Linked DNA regions of Homo sapiens: all the other regions are reported to be linked to region 1. Evidence: microRNA targets listed by miRTarBase, many of them from high-throughput screens and not tested one by one. Region 1 holds a microRNA gene; each other region holds the end of a gene's coding sequence.
Evidence for each region. Region 1 holds the annotated microRNA hsa-miR-3074-5p (GUUCCUGCUGAACUGAGCCAG, at 2,927-2,947, shown strand). A microRNA usually pairs through its seed, bases 2 to 8, with sites in the 3' UTR of a target mRNA and lowers its output. Matches are read on the target gene's strand: a 7mer-m8 pairs with bases 2 to 8, a 7mer-A1 pairs with bases 2 to 7 and ends in A, and an 8mer does both.

Region 2: miRTarBase lists TNRC6C as a target of hsa-miR-3074-5p. Seed matches in the 3' UTR shown: 7mer-A1 at 2,123-2,129 and 7mer-A1 at 2,501-2,507.
Region 3: miRTarBase lists THSD7A as a target of hsa-miR-3074-5p. The part of its 3' UTR that is shown has no 7-base or 8-base seed match.

The regions. Positions count from the first base shown.
Region 1 is chr9:95,084,449-95,089,009 of GRCh38, reverse strand. It overlaps MIR3074 (microRNA 3074), which reads left to right and starts at 2,916; the gene lies at 2,916-2,996. It overlaps AOPEP (aminopeptidase O (putative)), which reads right to left. Exons shown (of 17, transcript NM_001193329.3): 17 at 1,851-2,328. It overlaps MIR23B (microRNA 23b), which reads right to left and starts at 3,802; the gene lies at 3,706-3,802. It overlaps MIR27B (microRNA 27b), which reads right to left and starts at 3,565; the gene lies at 3,469-3,565. It also overlaps MIR24-1.
Region 2 is chr17:78,104,318-78,108,317 of GRCh38, forward strand. It overlaps TNRC6C (trinucleotide repeat containing adaptor 6C), which reads left to right. Exons shown (of 23, transcript NM_001142640.2): 23 at 168-4,000. The coding sequence ends at 528. TMC6 (transmembrane channel like 6) reads right to left here. Exons shown (of 20, transcript NM_001127198.5): 20 at 3,080-4,000. Among named protein-coding and RNA genes, the nearest start is that of TMC6, 22 kb to the right of the region's middle.
Region 3 is chr7:11,372,251-11,376,250 of GRCh38, forward strand. THSD7A (thrombospondin type 1 domain containing 7A) reads right to left here. Exons shown (of 28, transcript NM_015204.3): 28 at 1-3,628. The coding sequence ends at 3,544. Among named protein-coding and RNA genes, the nearest start is that of PHF14, 400 kb to the left of the region's middle.

The sequences.
Region 1 (4,561 bases):
CCTCCCTCCCTCACCTCCAGGGGCAGCCCCAGCACGGGCAGGGTGCCCCCAGGTCTGGAGGCAGCAAAGGCCGACTCCTGGCAGGACCTCAGTCAAATCCGTGACAGCAATGTCCGGTTCTGATGAGGTCCACCAAATTTATGCCACCCACTGGCCAGATCCCCGGTGGTCAAAGCAAGTCACAAGACCCGGTGACTCACAGGAGCCAGGGGATTAGTGGTCTTTGTGCAGAACCCCACCTATTCAGCAGTTCAGCTTTGCTTTAGTGGTTTCTAAAGAAGATAAAGCATGGCTTTCACTTTTTGGAAAAGCAAGGTCACCCCAAACCACTGGGCCGGTGAGCCACCCGCAGCTCTTGAGAGCTCCAGGTGCCAAGCATCTGCACACAGTGGGAGTGGGAGCCTCGCAGGGCAGTGCGGCCGGTACTCCCACGGTCCTTCCTGGCTCTGCCTCAGTGAAAGCCAAACACACTTAGAAAGCGCAGAGAGAGAGAGAGAGAGAGGCCGGGTACAGTGGTTCACGCCTATAATCCCGGCACTTTGGGAGGCCGAGGCAGGTGGATCACGTGAGGTCGGGAGTTCGAGACCAGCCTGACCAACGTGGTGAAACCCCATCTCCACTAAAAATACAAAATTAGCTGGGCATGGTGGCGGGAGCCTGTAATCCCAGCTACTCGGGAGGCTGGGGCAGGAGAATCGCTTGAACCCGGGAGGCGGAGGTTGCAGTGTACAGAGATCGTGCCATTGCATTCCAGCCTGCGCAACAAGAGTGAAACTGTCAAAAAAAAGAAAGGAAGGAAAAAAAAAAGGCAGCAGCACACAGAGAGAAAGCATCGTTCATTCTAAATCTCCACAGGAAGCCGCGGTCGTGTATTTATTCAAACATAACAGTCAAGTTCTGAGCCATCCTCCACGATGGCACAGCCAGCTATACAGTCCCACGCAAAGGCATGTGACAGCAGAGAGCAAATCCTAAGAACGTTCTGGAATCAGTCACTGGGACAAGAAAAGAGAGTTCTGGAGACCAAGGCCTCCCAGTCCAGAGCTTCTAATGAGATCCATGGTAGAGCCCCACTTCACCCCAAACAGGCCAGAATTTGTGCTGCCCCCTGGAGCCAGGCAGAGGAGACTGTGGGTGTGTTCAGGTGCACTCATGCTCAGCCCAACTTGGCACAGGGCCCATGGCTGCACCCGTTCCTACAGCCTTCTCCAGGCATTTTCAAACATTCTGCCCCATGGACAGTGCCAAGGAAGCTCAGTGCCCAGCTTCTGTCTATACCCTAAACCTTGTGGAGAAAGAAAAATCATACCACCAGACTCCCACGATGCCTGAATATGCCCAGGCTCTCCATTTTATCGGAAGAGGGTGCCCCACGCGCAGCCAAATTACTTTTGTTTTCAGGCTTCTAAGAGAACTAACACTACCTTGAAAACAACAAAGAAACTAGTGAGGTGGGGGGGGAACACCAGAATGTGGAGAATACCTTTTTCTTGTACGTGCTTTTTTTTTTTTTTTTTTTTTTTTTTTGAGATGGAGTCTTGCTCTGTCGCCCAGGCTGGAGTGCAGTGGCGCAATCTCGGCTCACTGCAACTGCCACCTCCTGGGTTCAAGCGATTCTCCTGCCTCAGTCTCCCGAGTAGCTGGGATTACAGGTGCCCACCACCACGCCCGCCTAATTTTTTGTATTTTAGTAGAGACAGGGTTTCACCATGTTAGCCAGGATGGTCTCGATCTCCTGACCTCGTGATCCACCCACCTCGGCCTCCCAAAGTGCTGGGATTATAGGCATGAGCCACCGCACCTGGCCTTTATTATTTTTAAACAGTATGAAATTTAGAAGCAAACACGTATACAAAAAAAAAATCCATTACATTTATTAATAATATATCTTAGATTCTCATCCTGTTCTTTTAAATGGCGCCCACTGGTCTCATACAGAGGAGCTGTGTGACTTTCTGGAATTATAGAAATATCCGCATCCAGCCATGTGCTGAGCAGACCAATGTAAAATGTTCAGCAGGTTTTCCAATGTCTCTTGGATATATTTAATCATCTCTGCAGAAGAACTCAAAATCTCAGAGCAGCTCCACTCCAGATCCAGGGCAGGAGGCAGCCTCCAGGGAGGGAGGCTGCGTTTACGAGAATCTGCCTTTTGTGTGTGCCTGGCTGGGACCAGCCTCTGGGAAAGAGAAGCACCAAGATGTGAACAGGGCTGTGGGCCGATGGCTTTAGCAGCCACATAATCCCTCCTTTGATGTCCAGGGTCAGTTCGAGCCTGGTCCCCCAGGCTAGGAGGAGACGAATGAAAGAATCTTGCTGTGGTCTTTCCTGCAAAGGAAACAGCAGTAACATTGATTACCCAGTCACCGGGAGGAATTCTTGTGAGCGCGCACCTCTGTGTGCCTTTGCTCTCCACTTTCAAGAGAGGACTTTAATCACAGGACAAGGAGAAGACCCAGGCCCATTTCAGTCTCCGGGACGGGTCACAGCGAGCCGTGTGACGCTGGCCTGCTCACACGTGGCCATGACACCAGCAGGCTGTACTCAGGCTTTGCGTACACAATAGCTGCTAGGAGTACCCATTTCAGACACGCACCCACTCTAACTGTTCTCAGAAAGTCTCAGCTCACCTCGCCGTGGGAGAGCTGGGCCCTGCCTCCCTTACACATGGGGGCAAACGGCCCCCTGCTGGCACTGTGTCCTGCCTTCAGGCCTGGGAGCTCTTAACTTTCTGCCAACAGGGTTTTCCAAGTCTACAAACCCCCACGCCGCAGGAGCACATGCAGATGACTGGCACCGTGCTGCCGCCGGGCCGGGGTGGACGCAGGGTGGACGCGGGCCTGTCTGCCGCGAGTGGGAGCCCCAGCTCTCCTGAGCCTCGGGCACTTACAGACACGAAGGCTTTTTGCTCAAGGGCTCGACTCCTGTTCCTGCTGAACTGAGCCAGTGTGTAAAATGAGAACTGATATCAGCTCAGTAGGCACCGGAGGGCGGGTCCAATCGACAGCCCGGAGAAGCAGCGCCTCAGCTGGGAGCTCCGTGGGCACCGTCTGCTGGCGCAGGAGACGCGAAGGCCTGGACTGCAAATACAAGAGAGAGTTCACCGCGCCCAGAACAACAGGAGCTCCTCCGAAAGCCCCGCCCCGCCCCGCTCACAGCCATGAGCTACCACATGATTTCACACGACTTAGGTGATGCATTTGGTTTTAGTTTTTTGTAAGAAGAATTTTTGCAACTTTCAATACATTTGACCTTTCAGACAGATGTCCGATTAGTGCATGTTTCTGTGGACAGACTTAAGGACTCAGTACATGGCTAGCATTCCCAGCAGGAGACAGTGCATCCTTGGGGTCAAGTGGTCTCTCATCCTCCAGGATCGCGCTCCGCACCCAAGCTGACTGTGCAGCAGCGGCCGGCCCGTCAGCAACGGCCTCTGCCCCAGCGGCTCCAACTTAACTGTCCCCATCTCACCTTCTCTTCAGGTGCAGAACTTAGCCACTGTGAACAAAGCGGAAACCAATCACTGTTCACCAATCAGCTAAGCTCTGCACCTTGTTAGAGAGGTCATCGCTGGGCATAAATAAAGGGACGGTGACCGGTGAGCATCTTCCTCAGCTGGTGGCTTCTTTTGTTTCCAAAGAAGAGCTACGAGATGCACCTGTTCTCCAATCTGCAGTGAGCGCGACCACGGTTTCTGGAGGAGCAGCCAAGGTCGTGGTTGCGTGGTAATCCCTGGCAATGTGATTTTAATCTTAAGTCACAAATCAGCATGCCAGGAACCCAAGCAGCCAGAGCACCTGAGAGCAGCGCCACCCCGTGCTGTCTGCACACACTGGGCTTCCGCGGAAGGACGCCGGCGACACTGCCGCCTTCACGCCTGTTATGCTAGCAAACAGGTGGAGTTTCTGTTTGTTGTTCGTTTAGTTGGCATCCTAGAGGTATAATTTCTTGAATCAAAGGGACTCCAGAGATGACCATAAAAATGCCAGTGCAGCTTTGGAACTGAAGAAAAATGCAGGGACCGGCCATGCGACACACACAATTGCTAAAGGCAGCTGTCCTTGCTATTAGTTTACTGCCTCTAACCCTTGGGGACAAGATCCCTTCTCTCCAGGCAGATTCTAGCTGCCCTGGGAAGGCTTTGGGGACTCTCAAGTCAGGAGGTCCCCCTGCTGGAAGGGGCCCTGGGACAATCCCGGCCACTGTTCCTCACGGGGACTGGTTGGGGGGCAGGCTTGCAACCCCTGGATGCATCTGGAGGGGTGGGGACAGGATCGAAGATGCTGGGGAGGGGGAAAAGGGAGACTTGTGACCAAGATGACTCCTTTGCCTGCCTGGGCAAAAATTCCCCATAAAGAGTGGCGAGGGGTGTGCCCTGTGGTGCTGCTCCAAAACCTGCACCAAAGGGAATGATGAAAGGACTAGCTGGCCTTGTAGTTTCACACACTTTAACACGTACGCCACGAAATAACAAAACGAAAGAGAAACACCATTTACACTGATTACTATTATGAGGCCGGCAGTGAGGTAAGTGCACAGTCTGTGTGCCGCCAGCCCGTCC
Region 2 (4,000 bases), not on the chromosome of region 1:
TGAACTGAGCAAAACATTCACAGTCTGGGTTTGGAAATAGCAGTGGCAAAACAGAAGCCACAGGATGGCTTCCATGTGGGGCCGTTCCCAATACAGAGAAAGCCAGTGCCACGAACTCAGCAGGACTTGGGGTGGCCCTGTTCACGTGCCCCATCTTGCTGTTGCAGGTGCGTCCTGGGAAACACTACCATCCTGGCCGAGTTCGCTGGTGAAGAAGAAGTGAATCGCTTCTTAGCCCAAGGCCAGGCGCTGCCACCCACTTCCAGCTGGCAGTCCAGCAGCGCGTCCAGCCAGCCGCGGCTCAGCGCAGCGGGCAGCTCCCATGGCCTGGTACGCAGCGACGCTGGCCACTGGAACGCCCCGTGCCTGGGTGGCAAGGGGAGCAGTGAGCTGCTGTGGGGCGGGGTGCCCCAGTACTCCAGCAGCCTGTGGGGCCCGCCCAGCGCCGACGACAGCAGGGTGATAGGCAGCCCCACGCCGCTAACCACCCTGCTGCCTGGGGACCTGCTCAGCGGGGAGTCCCTGTAGGCTCTGCCATCATCAGCACCAGGAGAGCCGACCCCTCCCGGGACCCCTCCCGGCTGGGCGGCCCCACAGACCCGCTGGAACCCAGCAGCGGCCGCCCTTTTGAGTACCTCTGTCCAGGACTGAAGACGAACCTTGGCCGCAGTCCTTGCGAACTGTTCGCAAAACAGTGCGGGCTGCGGTGGGTCAGCGTCACATGCTAATGACAGGATGTTCCTCGTAGCTTTTTATTTTGTGCGTCTTATGTTTGTATAGTGTGTTGTCATTTTGATTTTTTTTTTTTTTTTAAGTATAAAAGCTGCTTAGAATAGTTCTATCATGAAGGGCACTTTTCAGATTGTGGGCTGGAAAGGGTTATTTTATCTGTGGGGGAGGGAGGGAGACGTGAAGCCTATTTAAAATGAGCCTGTGACGATTATGCACATGACCAGAGGCGGCCGGTAATCAGGGCAGAGTCTGGTGTGGACCGCCGGGCGCAGAGCGGCTCCGCGGCGGGAGCTGAGCGGAAGGCGCGGGCTGCGATCTGCTCTCTGTTCCCCTGGATCCGCCTATGCACATTACCCTTGTTTCATTACTTTTTCATGTCATTTTTTTATCCCAAAAAATATTTTTTAAAAGTTAAAAAAAGACATATCAAACATGCAAATACTTGAATCCAGCAGGCCAATAGTGAAATGTGAACACTTTCTAATTCTACACTTCCAGGTTGACATCAGTACACAGAAACAGGCTCTAGGAAAAATTTCTAAGTTCATAGCCTACGTGTGTGTATGTGTGCGTGTTGAAACAGAAGTGTGTGTGTGTGTGCATGTGTGGCGCGTGCTCCTGCACGGCGTGCAGTTTTCTGTGTTTGTGTGTTTGAAAGCGTGTGAGGATTTAACTGTGGGTTTTCCCTTGTATTCAGTATACGCTTTTTTTTTGGCGCATTGGTCAAACGGTTGTTATTATTAGCTTCTAACTTTGCACTGAGTGTCCTCGCCCTTCCTTTAGCTAATCCTATACATTACAGAGAATTCCTAGGACAGGGCTGGCGACAATTCATGTGTAAATGTTTACTCAAGGACTCTGTGACTGCGTTTAAAAAGTACAGTGTATATCTCTGGAGAAATAACATGTATACCTACCTTTAGCAGCTTTTTATTGTGGACTAATGCAAGAAAATTATTACCAGAGTATTGCACCATTTTTCCATTTGGAATATAAAGTTAAAGAGAAAAAAAAAAAAAACTGTTGTTGAACTGTGGCCATAGATACTTGTAAAGAATGGATGGTTCCGTGGAAGGAACAGAAACAAGCACTTGGGCGTGGGTTGTGACTGCTTTTGGGGGAGCCTGGGGTTTGGGCTCCCACCTGTTTACAGACCTTTTTTTCTCCTTCAGACTTTAAAATTTTAAAAATTTAAAAAGGAATTAAAAAAAAAAAAAGACTTCCGTCGTAAAGAAACCTATTTTCAGAATGCAGATGCGTTCCTTCAGAGCTCTGGGACGGGACAGTGTTGTTCCCTCGGCCATCGTCGTGGACTCTGTCGATTGCTTTCGCCCCTTCGTCAAGGTGACAGGCGTTGTGGCCACTGTCTTGCACATGCCGGACGCGCTCTCAGGAAAGCCAGGGCTCCCGAGGGCAGCTCCACACCATTTCATGTATTTTTAAACCCAACTCCTAGCACTGAAGATGTTATTTAAAAAAAAAAAAAACAAAACAAAACAAAAAAATGAAAAAAAAGAAAAAGAGGAAAAAAAAACACAAAGAAGAAAAATACCTAATCTCTAATGTGTAGCAGTTACATATTTACCAAATAATGGACTCAAAAGAAATAGATGTTTGAAGAGTGCTTTATATATTAAAAATTGCTTTATGTTTTAAAAATGATCAATGTTTTGATTGTTTTGCAAGGAAGAAAGACAATGGAATAACATACCTTCAAGTATGTTTTAAAAAATATATATATGAACATTGTGCTCCCTGCCTGCTTGATCAGGAAACTTGTGCATTACATTTTTTTAATTAGCTTTTTAATGGTTTTATCAAAACAAAAAAAATACAAAAAAAAAAAAAAAAGTCCTGCAAGACTGCAGATCCACAAAAGCTGGTTTTATAGAGGATCATGAACTATGCACAAACTGGGTTCAAGACTTTTTTTCTCAAGTTTAGTAGGATATTTAGAAAAACCAACCTTCCTCAGAGTGACTGCATCTCATTGCCATTACATGCGTTCTATATATTCGATGGACATACACCTGCGTATGTATATCCAATATGTGTGCGTGTGAGCATGCGTGTGCGTATGTGCGTCCGACATACCACTTCCCGTGCTGCCGGCGAGCATTGAGTTGTAGAAAAACTGTTGTTTTAAAATTGGGGATGGAAGTCAAGAATATGTTTGTTTGTTTTTGGGTTTTGTTGGGTTTGAGGGGTTTTTTGTTTGTTTGTTTTTTGTTTTTTTTACCTTTTATTTTGAACTTAATATGTCTGTAACTCTGAGATTAAACAACAAGTTCGTGGCTCTTAATGTTTTCCTCATAGAATGTGACTGTTGAAGAACATGCATCGAAAGTTGCTTTCGAAAGTACAACGCTTTATTGAATCTTAATAAATTGCAATTTTTTTCTTGGCTGTTCAAAGTAATGTGTTTTTCATTTTTCAAAAGACACTATGGATGTCTACTTTGCACGCTGCGATTGGGAGAGCTGTCCCGCTGCATGCGTTCCCTCTGTAATTTCCTCAGAGCTCACATACGTACCTCTCTCACGAGTGAACTCAGATTTTCCATTGTTTTGCTTTATTCTATCATTTGCTTTGTGGTTTTGCTGTAAATATTGAAATCTTAATCATCATCGAGAGGCACAGCCAAGCTTTCCAGCTCTCCACCCCCGTGGCCCATCCAAGTCTGTTCATCTGGTAACTTCTGTTGTCTGGGACGGCAGCAAGAAGATGCCGGGGCTTGCCTGGAGTCCTGGCAGAGGAGTGCCACTCACTTTTGCCTAGGGTCCAGTTGGGGCTTAAAAAATATTTGGAGAGAAGAGTAATGAGGATTTTTTGTGTTTCCTAGACATTTTATGCATCTATTTTTGTAAAATCACCTTCGCTAACTTTCACCAAGCACTTTGAGCACAGTGGAACTTCAGAAGCACAACCAGCCTAACCCCAGAATCTCAGGTGGCACAGCTAGAAATTGAGTCCCTTCCTAGGACACTGGCCGTGGCCTTCAGGGTGACCAGTCAGTGCCACCGGGTTGGCATTGGTGTTACAGACAGGCCTCTGAAGACAAACCGAGCACCCCAGCGGCCCCTCAAACTAAGCAAGGATCTTTTTTCTGTCTGCGCTCCCTGGGGCAAGGTCAAAGGTGGACCCGCCCACTGTGGGTCAATTCCTTCGAAAAGATGGGACCCGCACCCCCGCCACAGGCTGGCCCCCCCCCACCCATGGGGAAGGTGGTGTGCTGCTGGCTCTGACCATACTCTTTTGGAAATTGAGA
Region 3 (4,000 bases), not on the chromosome of region 1:
TGTTTCAGTGCTATCTTCACTCATTAAGCATTTTTTCCTTCTTTTGGATGTCTGTCTTAAGTACCTATGTATACAAAAGCCATTACTTTTTTTTTTTTTTTTACAATGCCTAGCAGAATGTCTTATATGTCAATAAATATTTGCCTTGTTAGAAGTAATTTGTGCTTTGTTATAAGTAATTAAAAACAAGCTTTTATGCACTCTTTTTAAATTCACTTAAGCTACACCGTAGTATCCTCAAAAAAGGCTTTGAAATTAAGATTACTGTCCACATATTGGATTAGTTATTGATGAATAAGCAAATCAGCCCCTTTCAAAAGAGATCAGTTAGTCCTATTCTACGTGGTTTCTAGTGAAATAGTCCAGCAAAATCATATAATACTGTGTCAAACTTTTTCTGCTCTTCTTTTTTTAAAAACCAAACAACAGACCTTCATTCTAGGGAACAGCAGTTCTACATCTTTTACCCCCTCGGTGAGGTAAAAGTGTCAATAGAGAAGTTACTACTATATTCCCCTCCCAAATTTTTAGAAGGAACAGTAAAAATAAGGTTTTGATGAAATTCCAATAAAATATTTAACTCATTATTGTCTCATGTCAGAAACAAAAATAAGGCCATTTTCATGTTATAAACATGAATATAATAACCTTCCCTTTGTCCAAAATAGCCAGATTGCTACGTTCTCCTCTTTCCACCTTTCTAACGAGGTTATCCAGTATTTATTTATCCTAACAAACAGTGACCTTCCAATATGTTCTCTAATATTAGGTCATGTTGAACCTAATTTCCTCTCTCTCATATATATGGGTGTGTGTGTGTGTGTGTGTATATATATATATGCATGCATATATGCTGTAAAATCTAATTAATTTATGAATAAAATGTATTTTTCATAACATTCTATAATTTTGATTTGCTAATTTAATTCTTATAGGTAGGATGATACTAATCTTTTCTGAATTAATGACATTTTACAATACCTTAAATATAGCTTTAGTAGGTATTCTATCCCACATTTCAAAATTAATAGGTGTTGCACACATTTCATAAGAGGGTTAGCTGAATTTTTCAAGTAACCACAATAGAGTCTTTCTTAACTATTTTGGACAAATGGAGTTTATTTTATTCAAAGAGATCAACTTTAGGATTATCTGGAAGACCCCTGATTATATATATTGACAATCACAGTTTTAAAGTAACAATATTATTTTTTCTTCCTCTTTAATAAAACAGATAAAATGGACTTTGTTTTTATGGTTTTCTTTGTTTAAATCCTTGCTTTAAAGTAAAATTTTCATCTTCCTGACTACCTGTTCTCTTTGAAATGATTTACATTTCCTAATATAGTGAATATTGAATGAGGAATTAGCGCTTACTGCATTTAGTTCTTATTGAAATACATACAAATATTTTCATTTTGGGGACAATGACATCCTAACCTGATGTCTTTTGTAATCTTTGCAAATACTCTAATGAACAGCAGGGGGAGTTCATACTCCAGTATGAAGGTAAAAATACCTTCTAATCCAAAACACTTTTACAGGAACACAGCTGTTTAAGATAAAATAGCATGTTAGTTATATTATTTTTCAAATATCCTGAAAAGCTAGTGTCCTCTCTCACAAAGGTTGTTGCAATAATGTTGCCTGAAAATGGTATTGCTTTTTAATGGCACCTTTTGAGTTTTCTTTTCATTTGCAAGAAGTCTGCTGAGTTAGTTAAATATTGTTCCACTGTGCCATTCCCAGGGCTACATCTGTAGAAAATACAGCTACTTCTGATACAGTGGGAAATGTAATGACTGTAAATTCTCACCTTTGAAAAATGAATGAAAACGAAAGATGACACCATGGAGAGCTAGCATTAAAAAACATCCAGACCAGGGGTCAGCAAAATATGACCTGCAAAGGTGGCCTACTGGCTGTTTTTGTAAGGGAAGTTATATAGGAAAACAGTTATGTTCATTCTTTTATTTACTAAGATTGCATTAGCAGAATGGCAAAGTTGAGAAGTTGCAACATAGACCTTGTGGAAAATATTTTCTATATAGTCCTTTACAGAAAAAGTTTGCCACTCTTGCTCTAGATATGCAATGAAGTCTTGGATAAGATATTTATTCTTCTCTTTTAAAATTTTAGTTTTGAAATCATACATTGAAGAGAGAGATTGCTTCAAATTTTGCCAGTGAGAAAGGCAAAAGACTATGGATTTTGAAATAACTGCCTGCAAGACAGACATTCAATCTGAAACTGGGAAATCAGAGAGAAAGAAAAATCAACATATAATTTTGATTTCCTTTAGTTACAAAGGTCATTGATACATTATTTATTTTCTCCATCTGCTCAAAATTAAAAAGACATCCAGTTCCTTTTTCTTTTTTTTTCTTAACAAAGATAACAAATATAAAAATCTAGTCATAAACAGCCTTCAAAGAACAATTACAAACCAACTAGAGGAATCCACCTTTTAGAGGGTTAAGGGGTTAGGGACTTCAACACTTAAATTACCGCCATGTTGTCAATTTCACAATGGCTGCAGTGATGAGGAAGTGTGTGTACAGCAGGTGTAATAGCTGATTTCATCTTGCTGCCATCCAAACTGAACTTTACTCTCTTCAGGATACAAGAACTTGCAAATGTCTTCATGCCACTCTTGGCACAGATGTCTTCATCCCACATGAAAAGAGGCAGTTTCTATGGCAATACTGGTTAAGCGCCTATCGTGCTGCACTAATATAGTGCAAAAATGTGCCTTCCATATAGCAAAAAAGATGCAGGCAACCAGTTTGAAAATCAGGGAAAGTAGAAACGTATTGTATTAACACAAGTAAATTAGTTTTCCAGACAATTACCACTATAAAATACTGAACTTGAGGACTCGTTCTTCTAAGACACTAGTACTTGTCCAGCATTCTTACTTTGGAGAGAGACAAGAAGTCTTAAAAAAGAGGCTTTGTCTCTGAAATGCAGGTCAATAAAATCTACCATCGACCACCAAGATGCTGAATTTATTCAGTGGATTTTCTGCTTAGCTTAGAGTTTATTTGTTATGCATTGTTAAAATTGCTTATTAGCAAGTACATAATCTGACATAATGTGTGTCATTCAACTGAGTACACATGTTAATTTGACCATAGTATTGTGGAGATCTTGGTAGAAACTCTTCATGCTAGGAAGTTTTATGGATTAACACTGCAGACGGTCTTGTATCAGGCATCCTAACTGGCCAATTCCACCATTATTTTTTAGAGATGAAAGTGGTTTTTCAGTCGGTAGATTTCAGAAAAGATGACATAAAACTTTCAGAATGCAGCATGTATTCAGCTAAATCTCCTATAATTCTCACGGTTGATGGTCTGTATATAAGTGGTACTGTCTTAAATATCTCCAGTGGCAGTATGATTTTCACTCTTGTCTTTATGATGCCATTTTTAAAAATTAAAATATATTTTAATCCACACAGTTTGGATACATTTGTTGTGGCCTCTGGACATCTATGAAGTCAGAAAGCCGAAACTGGTTGTTGCCAGGAAAAGTTATATGTTACATGTCGGCATCTCCATCATAGGCTAAGGTTAAAGGTTTCAGTCGGTTGTTTTGCCTTCTTTGGGGTTTCTTTGGCTTTTTGCTGTAAAAAAATTCGGAATTAGGAGAAAGAAAATCAGTTTCTAATTGTAAATTTGATTGCTTTAAGCGAAAAAAAAGTAAAAGCAAATTGATAAACTGAAATTGCCTCGTTGCCTGCGTTGCCTAAAGTCTATCTACCTTAGAATTTGATTTTCTGATCTTGAATTTCAGTTTTATGCTTTGAATAAACTCTAAGTAAACTTCAAGTGTTTCACTACCCTACAAAAGATAAATTATCCAAGTGGGATTCTTTTAGTATTAACAACAGAAATAAAATCATAGTAGGGTCATTTTCATTTGGCCAGAAACCTTTATAAATAATGCATAATTTATAAATTATACATGTTTTAGAAGATACTTGAATATGATTAGG